2 separate regions of the Homo sapiens genome follow, and region 2 is linked to region 1. Evidence: fine-mapped expression QTL. A gene starts in region 1. The other region holds a variant in brackets. All regions are shown on one strand. Distances are between the middles of the regions. Region 1 holds the start of SNAP91 (synaptosome associated protein 91). Region 2 overlaps SNAP91 (synaptosome associated protein 91).

Region 1 (10,426 bases):
GAATTGTAGTTCCCATAATCCCCACATGTTGTGGGAGGGACCTGGTAGGAGGTAACTGAATCATGGGGATGGTTGTCCCCATGCTGTTCTCATGATACTGAGTAAGTTCTCATGAGATCTGATGGTTTTATAAGGGGCTTCCCCCTTCGCTCAGCTCTCATACTTCTTTTCCTGCCGCCATGTGGAGAACGACGTGTTTGCTTCCCCTTCTGCCATGATTGTTAAGTTTTCCGAGACCTCCCAGCCATGCTGAACTGTGAGTCAATTAGACCTCTTTCCTTTATAAATTACCCAGTCTTGGGTATGTCTTTATTAGTAGCATGAGAACAGACTAATATGACTTGCTACATAATAAAGAATATTTCAACGGAGGAAATAATTCAATGTGTTATTTTAATTTATGTTAAAATAATTTTCCACTCCTACACACAAATGTGACATCTTCACCCAAACTCAAAAGCAATTCACAACAAAAAGCAAATTATGGTATCCTGAATGCACTTGAGCAGAGACAAAAAGCTTGCTTCTCTTTTATAAGACAACAAATGAAAAAGACCATAAAACTGATGAACACCCTAGTGTAGCAAGAAAAATTGTAGCTTGCACAAAATATCAGTAAGATTGAGATTCAAACAACTCGATTATCTTAGGGAAGTATAACATTCATCCATGAAACCATTCAAGTTTCTTAAGAATTACAGTTAATGAAGTATATTCCAAGCCAGAACAAACATATTTACTAAGTTTTGTTTTGCCTAAAATTCAGGTTAGAAATGAATTCAACATGACAACTGGCATGATAAAAGGAACATGTACATTTTACATGCCTAATGGCACAAAAACAATTTAAGTATGTTATTTTCATTTGCTTCCCAGTTTTAAATCTATTGTCTATTGCTGTATAACAAACTTTGTGGCATACAACAGCAAATTTTTATTCTTTCTCACAATTTTGTGAGTGAATAGGACTCTGCTGGGTAGTTCTCCTTTGAAGTCTTTTATGTAGTTGCAGTCAGGTGACAGCTGGTCTGTAGTCATTGGAATTCTCCTCTGGGCTACCTGAGATGGCTTATGCACTTTGACATCTGGCAGATGAAACTGGCTGTTTAAATGAGAGTTGGGCTGGGGTTTTGACCAGAGCACCTACGCAGGGCATCTCTGTGTGTTTGGGCTACTCATGTAGAGTGGTTCAGGGTAAACACATTTCTTACACGGTGGCTGGCTTCCAAGAGGGAACATCCCAAGTTGGAATGTTCTAAGAAACATAGGTGGAGGCTATAAGGTTTCTTATGACCTAACTGCCAAGCATCAGTCTGTTGTATTTTATTGATCAAAAGCAAGTTACAGAGACAGCTCAGATGCAAAGGGAGGAGATTTATTGGGGGACTAACTACCACAGTGACACACAAAAGTAAACCTTTGTGACGAATCCACAGAAACCTCTGAGAGGTATAAAGTTAAGTCTTTCATACAAGATTCATTGAATAAGAATCAGGGTGGTTATTCTTGTACCAATGTGTTTTTTTCTACTTTGACAGAAAAGCATTCCTGGAATGAAATTCACCCTATAGTTTTACCTTGAGAATATTATAGATTTAGGAGAAAGGTATAAATTTTCTAATTTCACCTCAGGTTGTTATCTGAGCCAATCAAATTATCTTCAGCTTTATTTTTCTCTGTTTCTTGTACACGTGTTGTATCTTACAAATAAATTGAAATCAAGAACTTGAAGACACTTGCCCTCGTGCTGAAATAAATTGTTGGTCTACGTGTAATTATTGTTGGCTTGATTTTTCTGTATTAAATCTGATACTCAGAAGAAAACATGTGTATTACATCAGAGACTTAGCTGGGTATGGTGGCTCACACCTGTAATCCCAGTGCTTTGGGAGGTCAAGGCAGGAGTATCACTTAAGGCCAGGAGTTCAAGACCAGCCTGGGCAATAAAATGAGACCGTCTATACAAAAAGTAAATAAATAAATAAATCAGAGACTTACAAAAAATCTGTTTAGTAGCATATATGCATTTATGTATATTGGCCCAGAAAATAAATTCAATTTTTTTTTTTTTTTTTGAGACGGAGTCTCAGGATGGTGTGCAGTGGCATGATCTCAGCTCACTGCAACTTCTTGAAGTGATTCTTGGGACTCAGCTTCCCCAGTAGCTGGGACTACAGGCACACACCACCATGCCCGGCTAATTTTTTGTATTTTTAGTAGAGGCGGGGTTTCACCATGTTGGCCATCCTGGTCTCAAACTCCTGACCTCAAGTGATCTGCTGTCCTCCACCTCTTAAAGTGATGGGATTACAGGAATGAGCCACCGCGCCAGCCTCAATATGTATTTTTAAAAAGCAGTTTGGGGTGTTTATTATAATTACCCTATTTTCTGACCACTGAGATCAAAGATATTTCAACTTGTAAAATATTAAATGTCAATTCTTATTCTTGCCTAAGATTTATTGAATATCATTTATTACGTTCCTGTGCCTTCAAAGAGAACATGTCAACAAGTAATTTTTTATCTCAATATATTTCTTTCTTTTAGTCTATTTTCTTTCTTTCACTTTAGTATATAACATTCATGGATGTAACTCTAGATTTTCCTGGCTGTAAGAAGCCAGCATCTCCAAATCTTTGCTACTGAAAATATGCTACTATTTTCAACGCTCATTAAGATCTTCCAAAACAACCCACATTTCATATATTGGTTCCATCCTTGACATTATTTATTGATTATTTATTATAAGAATATGATACTTCTATAGTTGAGGGATTTTCAAACATTCTGCTAACACTATGTCAGGATGTTTATGTGTGGGATATTCTCCCATGTATAGTACCAGAGACATGGGTAGCATACCAAGAATAAGCTCTGGCTTCAAATACTTCCCAGTGTATTGTATGTAACTGCACACTATTATAGGATTGACTTTGAATCCATTCCAATCTATTTTGAAAAATAAATCATTCACAGATTGCATTATTTTAATTATTATTGGAAACATGTTATTTGCTCAAAACCTCTTAACTAATAGCAACATATGTGACATTACATCATTATTGGACTGTTGGAGAACCATTATTTTATACTACTTCCTCATTTTATGTAAATTGTCCAACTTATTGCACAATGTTGTTTATAACATTCTCTAATTTTTTAATGTCCATAGAATTGATTTCTCCTTTCACTCCTAAAATTGGAAATTTTTGCCATCTTATTTTTTCCTTGCTCAATCTGGCTAGTGGGGTTATCCATTTTGTGATCTTTTCCAAAAAATGGCTTTTGGTTTAATTGATTTTATCTATTATTTGTCATTTTCTCTTTCATTGATTTGTACTCTTTATTACTTCCTTCTTTCTGCTCATGTTGAATTCAATTTATTCTTTTTCTAGTGTCTTAAGGTTCAAACTCAAATAAATATTTTTAGATCTTTCTTCATTCCTAAGCATTTTAATGCTATAAATTTGCCTCTAATCACCACTTTGCCTGCAACCCACAAATTTTGATATGTTGGATTTTCATTATTATTTAGTTCAAATAAATTTCCAATTTTCTTATGAGAAAATTAGACCTATGGGTTATTTGGAATGTGTTGTTTAATTACCAAATATTTAGAGATTTCCATATATCTATCTGTCACCGATTTTTAGTTAAATTCCACTGTGGTAAGAGAACATAATGTGTATGATTATAATCCTTTTAAATTTATTGAGACTAGCTTCATGGCTTAGGATCAGTCAGTATGGTCAATCCTGGAGAATATTCCATGCACACTTTAAGAAAGTATTCCACTACTGTTGGGTGGACTATTTTATAAATGTCAATTAGGTGAAGTTGGTCTGCAGGACTATTTCTTTCTTTTTTTTTTTTTTTGTGAGACAGAGTCTTGCTCTGTCACCCCAGCTGAAGTGCAGTGGCGCGATGTCCGCTCACTGCAAGCTCCGCCTCCCGGGTTCACGCCATTCTCCTGCCTCAGCCTCCTGAGTAGCTGGGGCTACAGGCACCCACCACCACGCCCAGCTAATTTTTTTTTTTTTTTGTATTTTTAGTAGAGACGGGGTTTCACCGTGTTAGCCAGGATGGTCTTGATCTCCTAACCTCATGATCTGCCTGGCTCGGCCTCCCAAAGTGCTGGGATTACAAGCATGAGCCAACCGCGTCCGGCCTACAGGGCTATTTCAAGTCATCTATACCCTTACAGGTTTCCTGTCTACTTGTCCTATTTATTACATAGAGAAAAGTGCTGAAATCCTGAAGTATAATTGTGGATTTGCCTGTTTCTCCTTTTAATGCTATTAGGTTTTGCTTCGTCCTACTTTGAAGCTCTGTTCTTAGATATACAAACAAGTAGAATTGTTCCATGCTCTTAATGAATTTTTCATTATGAAATGTGCCTGTTTATTGCTATTAATATTCCTTATTGTAAAACCTACTTTGATATTAATATTGCCACTCCCAACTCTATCAGATTATATTGAGGTATAATTAACAAACAACAAAATTCGCCAATTTTAAGTGTACAAATTGATGAGTTTTGAGAAATACATGCAGCTGTATAATCATCATCACCGTCACGATATAAAACATTTCCATCTCTCCAAAAAGTTTCCTTCTGCCCCTTTGCAGTCCCCTCCCCCAATGCCACCGTCACCTGACTCGGCACCTGATGTGTTTTCTGTTTCTATAGTTTTGACTTTTCCAGAATGTTACATAAATGAAATCAAAATAATAAGTAGAATTTTTGATAGAGCTTCTTTCCCTTCGTCTAATGAATTTGAGATTCATGAATGGTATTAGTTTGTTTCTTGTTATTGCTAAGTAGTATTCCATTATGTGGATATACCATATTTTGTTTATTCATTTACTAGTAGAATAACATTTGGCTTTCCTCCAGTTTGGGGCCATTATATTAAGCTGCTATAAAACTGGAGTACAAGTTTTTTTAATAGAATTGCGTTTTTATTTCCCTTGTAAATATGGTAAGACTAGTACTTGAGACAATAGTGCTCTTAAGCTGTCTCTCTTTAGTCATTAAGCTTCCAATTAGTCCTAGAATCAGTCTCAGTAGTTAGGAAATCATGACTGCATACTGAACACTGTACCAGGTGAAAGAGAGGAATATATAACAAAACGTTGAGATCGATAGGTATCGATATATGGCTTCAAGGCCGAGCAGAAGCCACCCGAAGCAAGGAGAAAAAATGCCAGGAAAGCTCACAAATATAGTTTTGATCTTCATGCTACTGTGAGAATTAAAAAAAAAGGTGAACATAAATAACAACCTTTGAAAATGTCAACACGTGAAGCTATTAACCAACTCCACATCCCTGTTTAGAAATTCCTGCTTACTATTCGAATATACACTTGACATACAATTGACGGACGTTCCAACACTATATTTAATTGGCAGAAATTACTTCTTAAGGGTACAAAGGGTTTTCTTTATGCACGCAAATGATTACTGTCGAAGGTAATCTGGGACTCGATTAACGGCTGTGTTAATTATTCTCCCTTCAGCAGACCTCAGTATCCGTTTAAGACTAAAGTGGCTAGAATTACCTGCCCACCCGGGCTCCCAGTTGTAACTGAGACAAGCGGAGGAGCCTGAGGAGCTGAAGACGCACAGGTGACGGTCGCGGATGGCCGGCAGGATCTGACATTTAAAATCGCCCTGCTCATCTGGGCCTCGGAGCCTTTGACAGGCGGGCGTGTCAGCGACAGTGTGGGGAAGGGGCTGGGCTCCGCCAGGCAGCGCGCGACGACGCCCTTGCCTTGGCCTTCACAGAGTAGAACCCGAGAAGCCCACTCGCCCGTCTTGGCCAACGCCCCCAACGCCCAGGGCTCCCCCCGCAGTCGGCGGGCAGGTGTGCGTGGTGCGCGAGCCCAGTGCGTGCCGGGTGCGGCGCCAGCAGCGGAGGGGCGGCCCGGCGCCCAGCGGAGAGCCGCTGGCTGGGTGGGTGTCGGCCTCCCCGCCTCCTTCTTCTCCCCGCCGGCTTGCCGGGGATGCTTGCGCGAGGCGCCCCCTCGCCTTTAAGCTCCCGGCCCCGGGGGGCGGTGTGTGTGAGTAGCTGGGAGGGGGCCGCGAGGCGCTCCGCCGAGGGCTCGTCCGGGTTTGTCCGCCGCCGTCACCTGACTCGTCGGAGGAGCCACAGCTGAGGTGGGGGCGGGGATGGGGACGCAGCTCGGAGCGCTAGAGAGACGCGGCGGCGCTGGCAGAAGAGGCGGCGGCGGGCGGGTACTGGCTTCTGGGGCCAGGGGCCAGGGGCGGTGGGCGCCGGGACCGCGGAGCTGAGGAGCGGGGCCCGGCCAGGGCTGGAGACTTTGCGCCCGGGGGCACCGGGGCTACGCGCGGTCGCACACATCCACCGGCGCGGCTTCCCTCGGCGGCCCGGGCTCCGCTCATCCTGCGGCGGGCGGCGCCGCTCAGGGGCGGGGTGAGTACCCGCGGCCGTACTCGGCCCCCTCCCCGCGCCAGGGTCTCGCGGGGATCCGCAGAGGATAATCCCAGGGTGCGGAGAAGGGCAGCGGCCGAGTGACAGCTCCGCGGAGCGCTCCAGGGCGGGCGGGGGACTGGGCTTCGCTGTCAGCCCGGCTCCTCTCCAAAGCCAGGAAGGGTGAGGCGCCCCAAGACTCCGGCGCCTCCGCAGAGCTCCCGGGCGGCCCCTGCGGCAGGGATTTGGAACCGGGGGGAAGGGGCCCGGGCGATGGGCCTCGGCGAGGCTTTGGAGCCGGCGGCGAGGAAGGAAGGGGAGGCGAGGGCATAACATGGCGCAACGCTAGGATAATCTCCTTCGCGACTGAGGGAGGACGAGCCCTTTGCTGCAGCAGCGCGAGGAGGAGGAGGGAGGCAGCCAGGGCTTGGGTATCCGATGCATTCCCCGAAGCCTGCGGGCTGCTAGGAGGAAAGTCTGCTGAGGTGGGAGATGGGCACCGGTGGGTGCGGCGCCCAGGGAATAACCCCAACGCACGTTGTGGCTAGTCCAGCACCCGCGGGTCAGGTTGCGGGGAAAGTGCTGATTGACAGGGGGGTCCCCAGGGGGTGAGTCTGGCCCTATGTGGGGGCCGGGGGAGAATGGGGACGGTGTCACGATGCTGCGACTGGAGCCCACGCTGGGGTTCCGTGACGGCCCTACTCACGGCCAAGACTCCCTGGACCGCATCGCAGGAGCGGGGCTTGGCGCGTTGCTGGCTCCGAGAGGTGGTGCCAGGGTGGGGATGGAGGAGGAGAGAGCCGCCGCGCGGCTGGAGGAGGCAAGGCCTGGGTGCTTGGAGGGTAGGGTCTGCGGATTAAAGCCGGACCGTCTCCCCTTGTTTCCTGCAGAAGAGGAGGCGGTAGACGCGACCACAGAAGATGTCGGGCCAAACGCTCACGGATCGGATCGCCGCCGCTCAGTACAGCGTTACAGGCTCTGCTGTAGCAAGAGCGGTCTGCAAAGCCACTACTCATGAAGTAATGGGCCCCAAGAAAAAGCACCTGGACTGTAAGCATCTCTTTATATAAGAGGGACATGCGCACGGCAGAGGCGCCTGGGATGCTGGTGGTGCGGCCTGCGCTCTTGGTCCATAATGCTGTGGCCTCTGATACTCCCAGCCAGGTTGCCCCTGAGCTGAAATTCTTCAGCTGTGAAGGTGTTCCCTTGGGTTAGCCATGAAACCTTGTCTTGTGAGCCATTTTTTCCTCTTATTGACCTCCAAGGTCTTGGTGGAGGGGGAAAAATACACACACACACACACACACACACGCATATGTATATACACACACACAAGAGAGAGATTGTACACACTGAATTAGATGTTTTTCACCTTTTTTTCTTTCTCCACCCACCCTCCCTTCTCCAAATTAGAGGAAATTAGAGGTTGCACAGTCAAAAAAAAAAAAGATGAATTTATGGAAGGTCAAACTTGTCACCCTAGTTCTTTCCTAAATACATTTCAGATAGTTCTAAGGTAGTATAATCTTTTTAAGTGTTGCTCCTGAGGATTGTTTTTGTGAGTATGGGTGTGTGTGTGTGTGTGTGAGGTATGTTACCATACCAAACTGAAATAAATTCAAGGTACTGAATGAGGAAATTGGACTTCATAGCTATGGCAATTTCATTTTACACATCCTGGCACACTTTGTCCCATTCTCAGAAAATGCTGGGTGAGATGACTATGCTATGGTCACAAAATGGATGTACTTCCCCAGCATCTGAGATGGTGCAATTTTAGATGAAACCGTTTAATTCTTAATATTATTTTTGTAACTGGTTATTTGATGGAAAAGGCTTTATTCTACTCTGGAATCTATATATTTCTGAAATACCTTAATTAACAGTAAATCTTTTGTCACCGAAGGATAAACAGAGGCACTTAGAAAAGAAAAAGGCTTTCACCTGCTTTGGGTGGTGAGGTTTCTCATAAGTCAGGCTATATGAGTGTATGTTCAGCAGTTGCTATTTAGTTCTCTTGACCTGCTTAGGATCTTCTGTTCTATTGTGATGTTTTTGGTAAAGGTGAATGTTGGCATGAGAGACACAGGTATGGCCACAGCCATTTCCTCAGCTGGCTTCCTTTGCCCATCTTCTGGGTTTTTTTGGTCTTGGGTCTTTTTCCTGCTATTTCCTTTGTGCAGCTAAGAAAATGGCACCAGTGTCAGAATTCACTCTAGCCCTATTATCTGCATAAGCGAAGCTTGATGAAGCTTACAACTGGACATTGTAAGAGTTGTCCAGCCTTGTGAACCTGTTGTCTCATAGAATTGAATAATTTTGTTTCTAGAAGCTCATCGGAGGGGAAAGTACCATTATGCCTTTCCCAAGGGAATGTTTAACTAAATTTATTGATTACAGCATTATATGTTATATATGCAGTACAGGATGAAAGAGGCCACCAGGGCCAGGGCACCTAAGAGAAGTAGAAATTGTAAATTTGTGACCAGATCACTTTGCTGCAGCATGCTGAATCATTTAGCCATTTTCCCATCAGTTTCCCCAACTCTGGAAGAATGATTCATGTCTTAAAGGTATATATCAGTCTAGAAAATCCTCATAATAAGAAAGGTATAGGTTATGAATTTGCTACATGCTGATCTATAATTAAAATGATAAATCAGTATACTGATATATTTCAGAGAACATTCACAGGTTTGAACATTTCATTAAAACATCATTCAGATAAAGGCTGACTTCTCCAGATCTAAATATTTAGTCACATTAGTATTTTAGTGGAAAAGTCTTTTGAAAATTTGAAGGTAGGAGGTTTTCCAATATGATTTCTAAGATGTGGAAAATAGGGGGAAGATTCCATGTTATAAAAGAAAGCAGCTGAAATAGGAACTGGTGTTGAATTATTAATATGAATGGTCATAAGAGCTGAACATTTATTGAGCAGTTACTATATAGCACGAACTGAACTTTATATTATTAATCTTTCATCACTTAATGGGTTCAGGGAGGGTAATTAACTTTCATGGCTTTTTTTTTTTCTCTTTGTGAGATGGAGTCTCACTCTGTCACCCAGGCTGGAGTGCAGTGGTGCATTGTCGGCCCACTGCAGCCTCCCAGGTTCGAGTGATTCTCCTGCCTCAGCCTCCTGAGTAGCTGGGACTTACAGGAATGCACCACCACGCCTGGCTCATTTTTGTGTATTTTTTTTAGTAGAGATGGGGTTTCTTCATGTTGGCCAGGCTGGTCTTGAACTCCTTCCCTCAGGTTATCTGCCCACCTTGGCCTCCCAAAGTGCTGGGATTACAGGAGTGAGCTGCTACTTCCCCTGTCCAAACTTTCATAGCTTTTAACCAGTACACTTAACTGCCATCTGTAGATTAGTAATATACTTTATTGAGAGAGGAGAGAAAATGAACCATATTAACCTAAATGGTCTAATCTCTAAAACACCCACCTTGCTTGCATAGCTTTCTGTGGAATTGAGCATCAAAATCCGCGTACATATTGCAGTCTTTATAATATGCATGAAAAAATTTTAATTCTATCATGAAAAAATTGAATGAAAATATTTTAATTCTGTTGCATAAAAAAATGACCAAAAACCAAGCACTGAGGAGTATTGGTTAGTGGTTTTTCTTTTTAATGTTTTACTTTTCTAATAAGTCATAAAATAAAACATCTTCTACTTAAAACCAACTTTTGGATGGAATTTGGAGACATAGTTATCACATTACTAATATGTACTATTCTAAGAGAAGATGATATGGAAAACCTGAATGTATATGTTATATGCATTATTAAGAGGACATCTTTGCTCAGAATTCTTTGTGAAGTTCCTTTAAAGAAACAGTAAACTACCTCAGTAATTTATTCACAGGTTTTCAGTAAACACCAGTTATAAAAGTGAATTGTTATTAAAACATGCAAACACATAATTAAGTTTCTTTATAGGCATTGAAGATTCTCAAGTAGTTGGTGTTTTAGTTTTGAAAAT
Region 2 (10,426 bases), 96 kb after region 1:
GTTCTATGGCTTATTTTTTTTCCTTACTGCGATCCCAATGAAAAAATATAAATATGAAAAGTTTATATGCCCAGACCTCCTAAATTCCATCATCGTCATCATCATTATCATCATCACTGGCAATTAGTATGACAATTTTGAAGTTATCAGATGTGAATTCATCTAAAAATTTTGAAGCCATTTATTTTTTTATTTTTAATGTTACTATGTACATTCTTTATTCAATGAGCATTTCTTTATAGTTTATAATCTGGTATCTATAACAAAATTTTCTGTATCTCTTAAAATTCATTTTTTAAACTTAGAAATATTGTCTTAGTTGTGTTTTATTAGAATTTATTAAGTCCATTTTCATCTGAGTTGTATTTTAAAATCCTAATTTTTGTAATTTTCTAAACTTATTAGATGCCGATAATCTTTTTTTTTTAACTCTATAGTTCAAAGCTTTTAAAATAATGCCGACAGGGCTGTTCCTTTCTATCTTACCTTCATCATTTTGATCAAATTAATATTTTGGTTCACTTAGTAATTTTTATATATCTAAATTTACATGTTTTAGTTCACTTGGTAATTTACACTTATAATAATCACATAATTACAAATATAATAATCACATGAATGTTAAGACAGTTTTAAGAGTCTATTAGTGAAATGAAAAATGAATATTAAATAAATGTCCTGAATTTTCAAAATTAAAGATTTTTAGTAAGAATTTCATTCTGTCATTAAAGGTACAGTGTAAAAGATACAGTTATATGAATGTCTGTGAATTCTGTGAGTTCCTTTATCAGTTACCATAGTTACTTCAATGTCCTTCAAAATTAATTTCACATTAATTTAAAGAAGAATTGTCAGAATTAAATATACCTATAAGGGTAGTTATATATTTCATTTAAGAAATGCTATTCTTTGAATGCCTATGCTGCTGTTAAGGTCTAATTTGTATTACAACTATTTGAGAAAGATGAAATGAAATCTCTAATGCTTAAGGAATAGATTGGGTGAAAAATTTGCGTGAACCTATTATTTCTCCTTAAGTATACAGTGAAATGTCATCACTTTATATTGCCTAAAATATTATTTATAAAAGGAAACATTCAAGTATTTCTTAATAAGAGTTGAAACTTATTAAATTTGCCAATACACAGTGCTCTGATATTATATTTGCTAAAAGTTACTTTATTATACATATAAATATATTTTTATATATAAATAGGTCAATAATAAAATCTTAATTGTTATTGATTATTAGAATTATATTCTTTTCCCCACAACTCTCACTCACCACCTTTTTAAAATATATTTAAATGGTTTTTCCTAATATTTCAGACAAACATAGATAAGTGAGATTTTACTGTATTTTCAAATTTCTGTAAATTTGTATTTGGGCACTCATATTTTTGACTTGAATACAAACACTTATTCATTTTTACTATGGTCTTATGAGAAGGAGGTGGTGAACTTGATTTGAGTTTACTGCATATAAGTAATGTATTAGTAAAAGTCTATCCAATGTAATCTCTACACTGAAACCACACTGTAATGCTATTTGTTATGCAGTGGAGTTAAGTCTATTTAAGATGGGTCTGTCTGAAAGTCTATGGAATTTAAATATTTAAATACTAAAAGAACCTGCAATTAAATTATCTCACATATATATCGGGGTCCATCCACAGACTTCCACCATACAGTTACAGTGACATTACAGTGTGTTTACATTGAAAGTAAACAATGCAGACATTTATTTTTACTTTCTTATTGTAGGCTCCCAGCAGTCTTATGGAGACGCTTGAACAGCATCTAAATACATTAGAAGGAAAGAAACCTGGAAACAAGTACGCATTAGTTGTATATTCTAAATAAGATGAAAAATACTACAGTCGTTCTTCTAAGAATGAGATTTATCATGGTACAACTTATATTGCTCTAGTTTTAGGGTATGCTTTGTTATAATTTTCTGGGCTCCCTCAGAACCCCTACTCTTCCTATTAACTTATGACAGTGGGTATAGACAATCTCTCTGCAGGCTAATGCAGCAAATTAGTAGATTGTACCTACATTAACTGAACCTAATGATTTGAACATTTGCCTTTAGAAGGAATTCACAATATATGGAAAAATAGTTACTCCTGTTTAAAAATCAAAGCTGTTATCATTGGACATGAGTGAAAACAAGCACAATTTCACAAGCAGCCTTGAGCACTCTATTATCGTTATCAACCCCACTGTGAAAAAAGAAAAGCCCTCAAGTATAGTTTTTTGGACTCCAGTATCTCCCTACTTGAACTATTAGGCATGGCATACTACTGACATTTTATTCATAGATCCTTTTATATAGAGAATAGCAATCAAGCAATGATAAGTACAGTTTTACTAGATTTTCATACCTCTGTGTTTGAGTACTTATATTTTTGACTATTTTTCCTCACTACATGCACGAAATGTCCAGGTTCCTTTTTTTTTCTTTTTCCATCTCTCCAGCAGGTCTGAAACTTGTCTATTCACAAGGCCTGGTGTTTTCCAATCTTTGTGCCTTTTTCAGACTATAATTCTGCAAGTCTTAGGATGCCCATCCTCCTTGTCCTGCTTTGTAAATCTTATGCATCCTGGGAAGGCCATCTCTAGTCCTACCTTCTCATGAAGCCTTTCTTTATCTTGAACTGCTCAGTATTGTGGCTATTTCTTTTTTTACATGTATGATTTAAGTAGATTTTCTGAATCTAAAGGTTAGGGACTATTTTATACTTCATTATGTCCATTTAAACACTTAATGTATGTCCTCTACAGGGAGAGCTTGGAATCTGTCTCTGTTGATGATACCAGCTTTCTGTTTATTCCATTTTGGTTGACAGCAGGAGTTAGTAGAGACAACCCGTAAAATGATCATTTCAGGGCTGTAGGCTGATCACAGATTTTACCTATGACAGAGCTATCAAAATGCAACTATTTTCTGACTTTGTTGCCTCTGGACATTCTCCCAGAATCTAGGCTTGTGTCTTGATGTTACTTTTTTTTTCTGGTTATTTCATTAGCTGTGTTATTTCTATAATATTTTTTCAAGTTAGTGTAGAAATTATTGCGTGTTTTAAATTTGCAGTGATAAGCAACAGTATAAGAGTATTACAGACAATTATGGCAGAGCTATTTGGAATGATGGATAGTAGGAGCTCTCAGGGGCTCTTTCAAGGTTGTTTCCACAGTCCAGGCTCTGCCTCCAATCTCAGCGTGGCCGGGGATGATCAGACTTGACATGAGAGTACATTAGATCACAATAAGAGATGCCCTAGTTCAGTTATTTCTAGGCCCACCCTCTATTAGGGTATCTGGGAAGCCAAATGAGTTGCCTAGGATTTAAGCAAATGGAGACAGGAAGCTGAGAAATGTTTCTGTTCCTGTGACAGAAGGACCTCTTTAGCTAAGGAAATATGTACATCCGCTAAAGTTAAAATCTCTGTCTTGTGCAGTGCTGGATGCACACTGTAAGTCAGCTTCTCTGCACTCTTCCACTCAGGGTCCCCCAAACCCCATATAGGGCCACACCCTTCCCTTGTTTTTTGTTAAATCTATCAGTGCTGCAGTCACAGAGAAGCCTCCTTGGGTAGCTAGAATGGGTCTCATTAGCCCTGACTTCAAATCTAAATTCGCCCCCTTGTGGTCACCACAAGCTATTTTTGGAAAAAAAAATAGCTATGGACATTTAGTTACATTTCTAGAGAAGTGAAATTTAAAATTCAATAGTCCTCCATTTCAAATTACTTTTTTCTTAGAATAATTTTTCTTTTTCCTTTAAAATCATTTTATGCTTGTCATATTTCTCTTCTGAATTGGCTAAAACCACATTTGAACTTGTCTTTTGCTTATTCCCTATTTTTTAAAATAAATGAACTATAATAGTTAACTATTCTCTTCTTTGTATGTTTGTGCTTACCTTGGAACTTAAGTGAAGGGTGAGTACTGTATGGAGTGAGTTTTTTGCATTTGGTAATTACTAAAAATGCAAAAAACACTCTTAAGATTCCACATTTGGTATTTAGAAGATTTAAAACTGATTTCTGTCCCTTTTACACATCTGTGTTTTTTCATTATGCTTTATTTTTGTCTCCCAAGTTGACTAGCATAAATGGTTTTACTTTCTTTCGGTCTTCTTGGATATAGACTAACAGTCTCTCTTAGATGTATATATGTATTTATATTAATATATTCCTCAGATTTTAGAAATGAAATATTTTTTATTTGTTTAGTAAACAAAAGACTTCCCCATGGCTTATAGCATAAATGCGAAAAGACAAATTTATAAAGAAAATTAATTACTTAAAATTGTTTTATTTGTCTTCTGGTCACAGTATAAAACTATTCTAACCTCCAAACCAAGTATATACATAAATTGAAGCATTTGCAAATGTCTGCTATGAAGAATATGTATGCCCTTTATATTTAGTACCTTGTGTCCACTGCTGTTTATTTCTGTAATTTTATGCAATACTCTGTGATATACCTTTATATATTGTCTGTTTCTATAATTCCACAGGACAAAAGAGAGAAATTTATTTTATTATTTATGTGGGTTTACTAAGTGTTGAGGTTACAGGAAATTTAAGATAAATCTTTTGTAATTCAAGTTATTTGAAGGATGTAGATAGATCTTTCACATCTGTATTTTTTTCTGGCTAGCACTTATACTCAAAATTATGTAGGGATTATTGTTATGACTCATATAAAACTTAACAAAATATTCTATTTGACAGCTTCCTGTTAACATCTTGGAAAGAAATATGGACATTTGCTGTGTTCATAGTGAAACCCATGAGTTTGTAGTAATTTTACAGAATTTAGAGTAGATTACTTATATGGGTCATTCATTTTCTTCTAAAATTACCTTAATGCCTTGTTTTTCCAACATGGTTCATTATCTACTAGATTTTTCTAGGTGAAATTATTAATAGAAGTATTGGTCTTTTTAACAAATATTGTCTATATGTAAATGATGTAGTATCTTCTTTCCTAAAGGGCAATGACTAACATTAGGGTGGAAAATCAAGTGAGAAACACATAAGAAGAGCAATTTATATGTTGTGTAAGAGAGAAGCAAATGTGCCAAGTTTATCTGTGTTTTGGGGGTTGGAATGTGGACTGAGCATAGGCTCTGAGGGGCATATAGACTTGGACTAGAGTCTGGAATCCACCGTTAAAGCATGATGAGACATGGGAAAGTTATTAACCTCTCCGAGCCTGGGAACCTTCAGAGTTTAATCAGTGATTAATGGTGCTTTTGAAAGCTATGGCCCCATTGGAGCACCTCTGGTTCTCAACCTTTTAATTAAATCATGGCAGAAGCCAACTCTGGTTAGAAAACAGAGGTCACGCATCCTGACAGTTTTGTTTCACAGAAAATAACTTTTTAAAGACGTCTGGTTAATTTATTGATTATAGAATGAATACCTGAACATATTCTAATATAAAAATTCAAATAATACAGAAAATGTCAGATGATATGTAAAGTGCTAGGGATATAAAACAATGGGATGAGTTCCTTCCTTTCAAAAAACTTAGTATCTAGTGAAGAAGATAGAGAATTAAACAGGCAACTAAGATGTAATGTGGTAAGTGGGATATCTCAACAGAGACAGTAGGAGGGTTTTGTTTGTTTGCATAATTCATGGGATAACTGCAAGTATCATTTACTAATATTGTTTATGTGGAAGCTTGGCAAAATGATTCTTGTACCAATTATGATTTTTCATACTTAAGTATGATACTCTTTTTTATAGCAGGTAGAACAATTCTATCATTTTTATTATATCTTCATTCTTGCTGTGGGGTAGAAGATGTTATAGAAGAAGTTATAATATTTTAGGTATTAGTTTGGAAATGTATTTCTAAAGCTGTTGATATTTTTTTTTTTTTTTTTTGAGACTGAGTCTCGCTCTGTCTCCTAGACTGGAGGGAGTGCGGTGGTGCGATCTCGGCTCGCTGCAACCTCCACCCACCAGGTTCAAGCGATTCTCCTGCCTCAGCCTCCTGAGTAGCTGGGATTACAGGCGCGTGCCACCACACCCAGCTAATTTTTATTTTTTATTTTTTTGTATTTTTAGTAGAGACAGGGTTTCGCCATATTGGCCAGGCTGGTGTCGAACTCCTGACCTCAAGTGATCTGCCTGCCTTTACCTCCCAAAGTGCTGGGATTACAGGCGTGAGCCACCGCACCTGGCCTCTTCTCTTTTCTTTATTAGTATTTATAATTGTATCAATACCACTAAGAATTGGTTTATGAAAATTGCTTGAGAGAGAAACAAATTAATTTAAATTAATTCATTCTTAGAAAGTGACCATACCAAAGGCTTCTATGTTTTCTTTGTAGAATTCATGCTACTATTTTCTTGAATTTTTATTTAGATTTAACTCCCTTCCTTTTCCATACGTAAAGGGAAAAAATAGTGG[A/G]AGTGGAGAAATTATTAGCCAAAACTCACTAGGACATTTCCCACCGTATGCTGTACTAGATTTTTAGGTTCTTAAGGAATTTACTGTAGATATTTCAGTAGACCCTTTGACACGGACAGTATAGATAAAGGTATATCCTTTCCCTCATAGACTATATTACTCTTAAGATAACATTTAGCCAAACTACATGTAACCAAGTTGTTACCCTTATGCTTGTTATATAGCAGAAATCTCTGTGCCCTTGCTACCTGTTGTTTATATTCATTTTAAGTAGAAATTAAATTCAAACAGGAAATGGCAGGCATGTATTTGCAAATGAAGTTGAACTTAAAAGATATTAACTTGGGCCTGGCGCGGTGGCTCATGCCTGTAATTCCAGCACTTTGGGAGGCCGAGGCAGGCGGATCATGAGGTCAGGAGATCGAGACCATCCTGGCTAAGACAGTGAAACCCCGTCTCTACTAAAAATCCAAAAAAAAAAAAAAAAAAAAAAAAAAAAAAATTAGCCGGGCGTGGTGGCAGGCGCCTGTAGTCCCAGCTACTTGGGAGACTGAGGCAGGAGAATGGCGTGAACCCGGGAGGCGGAGCTTGCAGTGAGCTGAGATTGCGCCACTGCACTCCAGCCTGGGTGACAGAGTGAGACTCCGTCTCAAAAAAAAAAAAGAAAGATATTAACTTGGCATATAATACTGTTAAATTTGCTATATCCAATAAGACAAAAATTCATAATATTGTACAAAATTCTACTTACTAAATTTCTGCTGTAATTTTGTTTTGCTGCTGCTATGTGTGTGATATTTTCTCTGTAGATGAGTAAAAAGTCATCCCTGCCATGCAGTAAGGCGGTGAATATAGGCTGCTTATTGAAATGTATTTAGTCTTCATCTTGTTTTGTTATTCATTTTTCACTAACTGAAGTTAGTAAAATGTGAGCTGTTCTGGCAGTTATTTCTGAAGCACTTTCCTAGAAGTGATCTGCAATAGTCAATGCTACCAGTAATATAACTTAAAATTCACGCCTTCCTAATTTTCCCTCATTTTCTTAGAAAAAAGCATCGAAGTTGCTGTTTTTTTCCTAGCTCCCACTAATTATAACAGGATGATGGGAATATTTTTCCTAGAATATTCTTGCTAGAGTTTTTATTACAGCCATGGGGGGGGAAAACAGACTTCAAGAGTATGAATATGGAAGCCGAGACATATTTCAGCACAGGGCCTGTAGGGATCTTCACAGTGTACTTTAACCTAAGTGATTTAAACCACTGGGTGTTGGGGTTTGTCATAATTCTGCAAAGCATGGTTTTTTCCAAGCCTTCTGAAAATGGTTTTAAATTCCCATTTAGACAGTTTGTTTTTTATGGACATAGGCAATAATGTTTGACTCAAAGAATTTGAGTTGCGAGAGATATGGAAAATAATGTTGAATTTAAGTATTTCTAGTACTGGAAATTAAGTAGATGGAAAACAGTGGAAGGGGGTGTCATTATTAAGTAAAAGATTAAAAGTTTTTTAAAAATAGCCTGTCCATTATTTTAAAAGTCTGTATATAAAACAAGTTAGTGCTTGACCAAGTGAAATCCAACTTAAATGCTTCTACAAATATATTCACATATATATTTATATATATATATATATATATATATATATATATATATTCAGTTTTAATTTTTTTTTATGTTGCCTTTTAGATCTGGTGCTCCCTCTCCATTAAGTAAGGTAAGTTTGGTTTTTTGTTTGGGGGTTTTTGTTTTTTGTTTTTTACCATTTTACCATCATAAAGTGTACAGTTCAGTGGCATTATATACCTTAACATTGTTGTACAACCATCCTCTCTATCCATTTCCGGAACTTTTTTTTTTATCTTTCAAAACTGTAACTATACCATTAAACAATAACTCCCCACCTCCCTCTCTCCCCGATCCCCTGGCAACCACCATTCTACTTTCTGTCTCTATGAATTTGATTACCCTAGGAACCTCATATATGTGAGCGCATATAGAATCTGTCTTTTAGTGACTGGTTTATTTCACTTAGCATATCTTCAAGGTTCAGCCATGTTGTACCATGTGCCTGAATTTCCTCCCTTTTGAAGGCCGAATTATATTCCATTATATGTATATACCACACTTTATTCATGCATTCATCCATCAGTAGATATTTGGTTGCTTGTATCATTTGGGTTTATGAATAATGCTTCTGTGAACATGGGTGTACAAATATCTATTTAAGTCCCTGGTTTTGATTCTTTGGGGGTATATACCCAGAAGTGGAATTGCTGGGTCATATGGTAATTCTAATTTAAATTGTTTGAGGAAAGGTAAGTTATGTTTTTATGTATCCTCCTTTGTATTTGTTTCTAAGTCCAATGTAGTATAGTATATGTAATTTAGTCCTTTGTTTGGACTAAATATTTTTAAAGTTGGAGAGATTTTCACGTATTTATATTGCAACAGAAAACAAATGTTATCAGTAGAATGTTTTAATAGTTGTAAAACATTTTTACATATTCTAAATCAGAGTCGTATGAGGTAGGTAATGTGATATTGTGCATGTTTCAAAGGTAGAGAAATCCATTGTAATTGGGTGTCTTTCCACAAATATGCCTTTTAGACAGTTGACTATAATAACTTTAATAACTCGTTTACCTCCTTGTCTCTTTTTTACCATGTGAAAGGACAGGATTAGGGTTATTAGTGACAAGAGTATTTACTTCTATAGGTCTGTAGTTCACATTTACCATTGTATTCTTCAGACAAAAATGTAATAGATGTGTTTTTTCCTCTTTGACAAATTTCCATTATATAATTGCTGTCATTACAGATATTCAAGGATATCATTATGGCTGCACTGGTGATTTCCAGACACCATGTACTATGCCAGTGATGGGTTGGCTGGCTGCCTAAGATCCCCTCAGGGACCTTGAACAATCAGTCAGATAAAACAAACAAGTGAAAAGCTCCATTTATTCTGATATAAGGCCAGGTTTAAAACCATTATGTCTATGTGAAAAACTCCAATATATGACTGCTGAGTAGAGTGTCGTAAAATTGTGGCATCCTTTGGGTTGGTCTGTTTCTACATTTTGGCCAAATTGAATTTTTTTTTTTCTTTTTCGGCCAAATTGAATTTTACTGACTTTTTCTTTTTGTAATAACAGATTATTTGGGTTCTGTTTTCCTAGCTCTTACATCTCCTCAGAGCTTGTTGTTACAAGGCATTTTTTAATGGGCTTCTGTAGAGTTTCATTTTTTGCATTTATGTTGATAATATTTATTGCTGTCAATAAGTTCTCAGTGTTTCATCAATATCATTTTTTCTAAACTTATTTACATGCATTGGCTTTTAAAAACCTTTTCTTAGAGGATTTCTCAGTGTTCCCAATGGATGACATACAATTAGCTTTAACTAGTCCTTTCTCTTCCATTGATCATGTTTTGTATTCCATTTGGAAGATTTGAATTTTTGTTGAAGAGAGAGTTCTGAGTTGATATTTTCTGATTAACAACATCCACACTGCTCATGTGTCCACCTTTCTTGAAGTGCTAAATGCTTGGCACTTGCATAACTATTGAATTTTGACTTTTGGATTAGTATATTCTTGGACAAACATAATATTTAAGTCTGTAAATTTCTGTAAATTTCTGATCTCCTCAGTTTTTTTTTTCCTCAAATTATTCTTTTTAAAACTTCCTTTATGTTTGGTCTCTTTGAAGTCAGATGCCCAGTTAGGGGAGTATCTGATAGCCCTGGCTTGGTCTTGGTCTTCATGAATCTTCCTGCTGTTATGTCTCATCTCCACTAACAGAACTAAGTATCAATACATTGTTTTGAAATGTTCCATTAATCTTTCTCTTGTGAATGAATGGAGAATTAAATATACCAGACAAAATTGTTTAGTTACAGTAACTAAATAAAAATCTTGTAATATATTAATTGACTATTAATACCTCTTCTTGAAAAATAAATACTAGATTTTATTTTTACCTTT

What was found. PIP is the estimated chance that this variant, and not a neighbour inherited with it, causes the effect. A credible set is the group of variants that fine-mapping cannot tell apart.
Region 2: its variant is the best candidate, but not a certain one, in a credible set for the expression of SNAP91 in spinal cord (GTEx, PIP 0.52).

What each region holds. Positions count from the first base shown.
Region 1 is chr6:83,704,857-83,715,282 of GRCh38, reverse strand. SNAP91 (synaptosome associated protein 91) reads left to right here and starts at 6,182. Exons shown (of 30, transcript NM_001242792.2): 1 at 6,182-6,438; 2 at 7,326-7,485. The coding sequence starts at 7,356. LOC105377879 (a long non-coding RNA gene) reads right to left here and starts at 5,841. Exons shown (of 3, transcript NR_136251.1): 1 at 5,564-5,841. RefSeq lists silencers at 5,910-5,969, 6,300-6,509, 6,919-7,213.
Region 2 is chr6:83,608,378-83,618,803 of GRCh38, reverse strand. It overlaps SNAP91 (synaptosome associated protein 91), which reads left to right. Exons shown (of 30, transcript NM_001242792.2): 10 at 1,765-1,835; 11 at 3,942-3,947; 12 at 8,127-8,154. Among named protein-coding and RNA genes, the nearest start is that of SNAP91, 96 kb to the left of the region's middle. The variant A/G (reference allele first, on the strand shown) is at 6,439.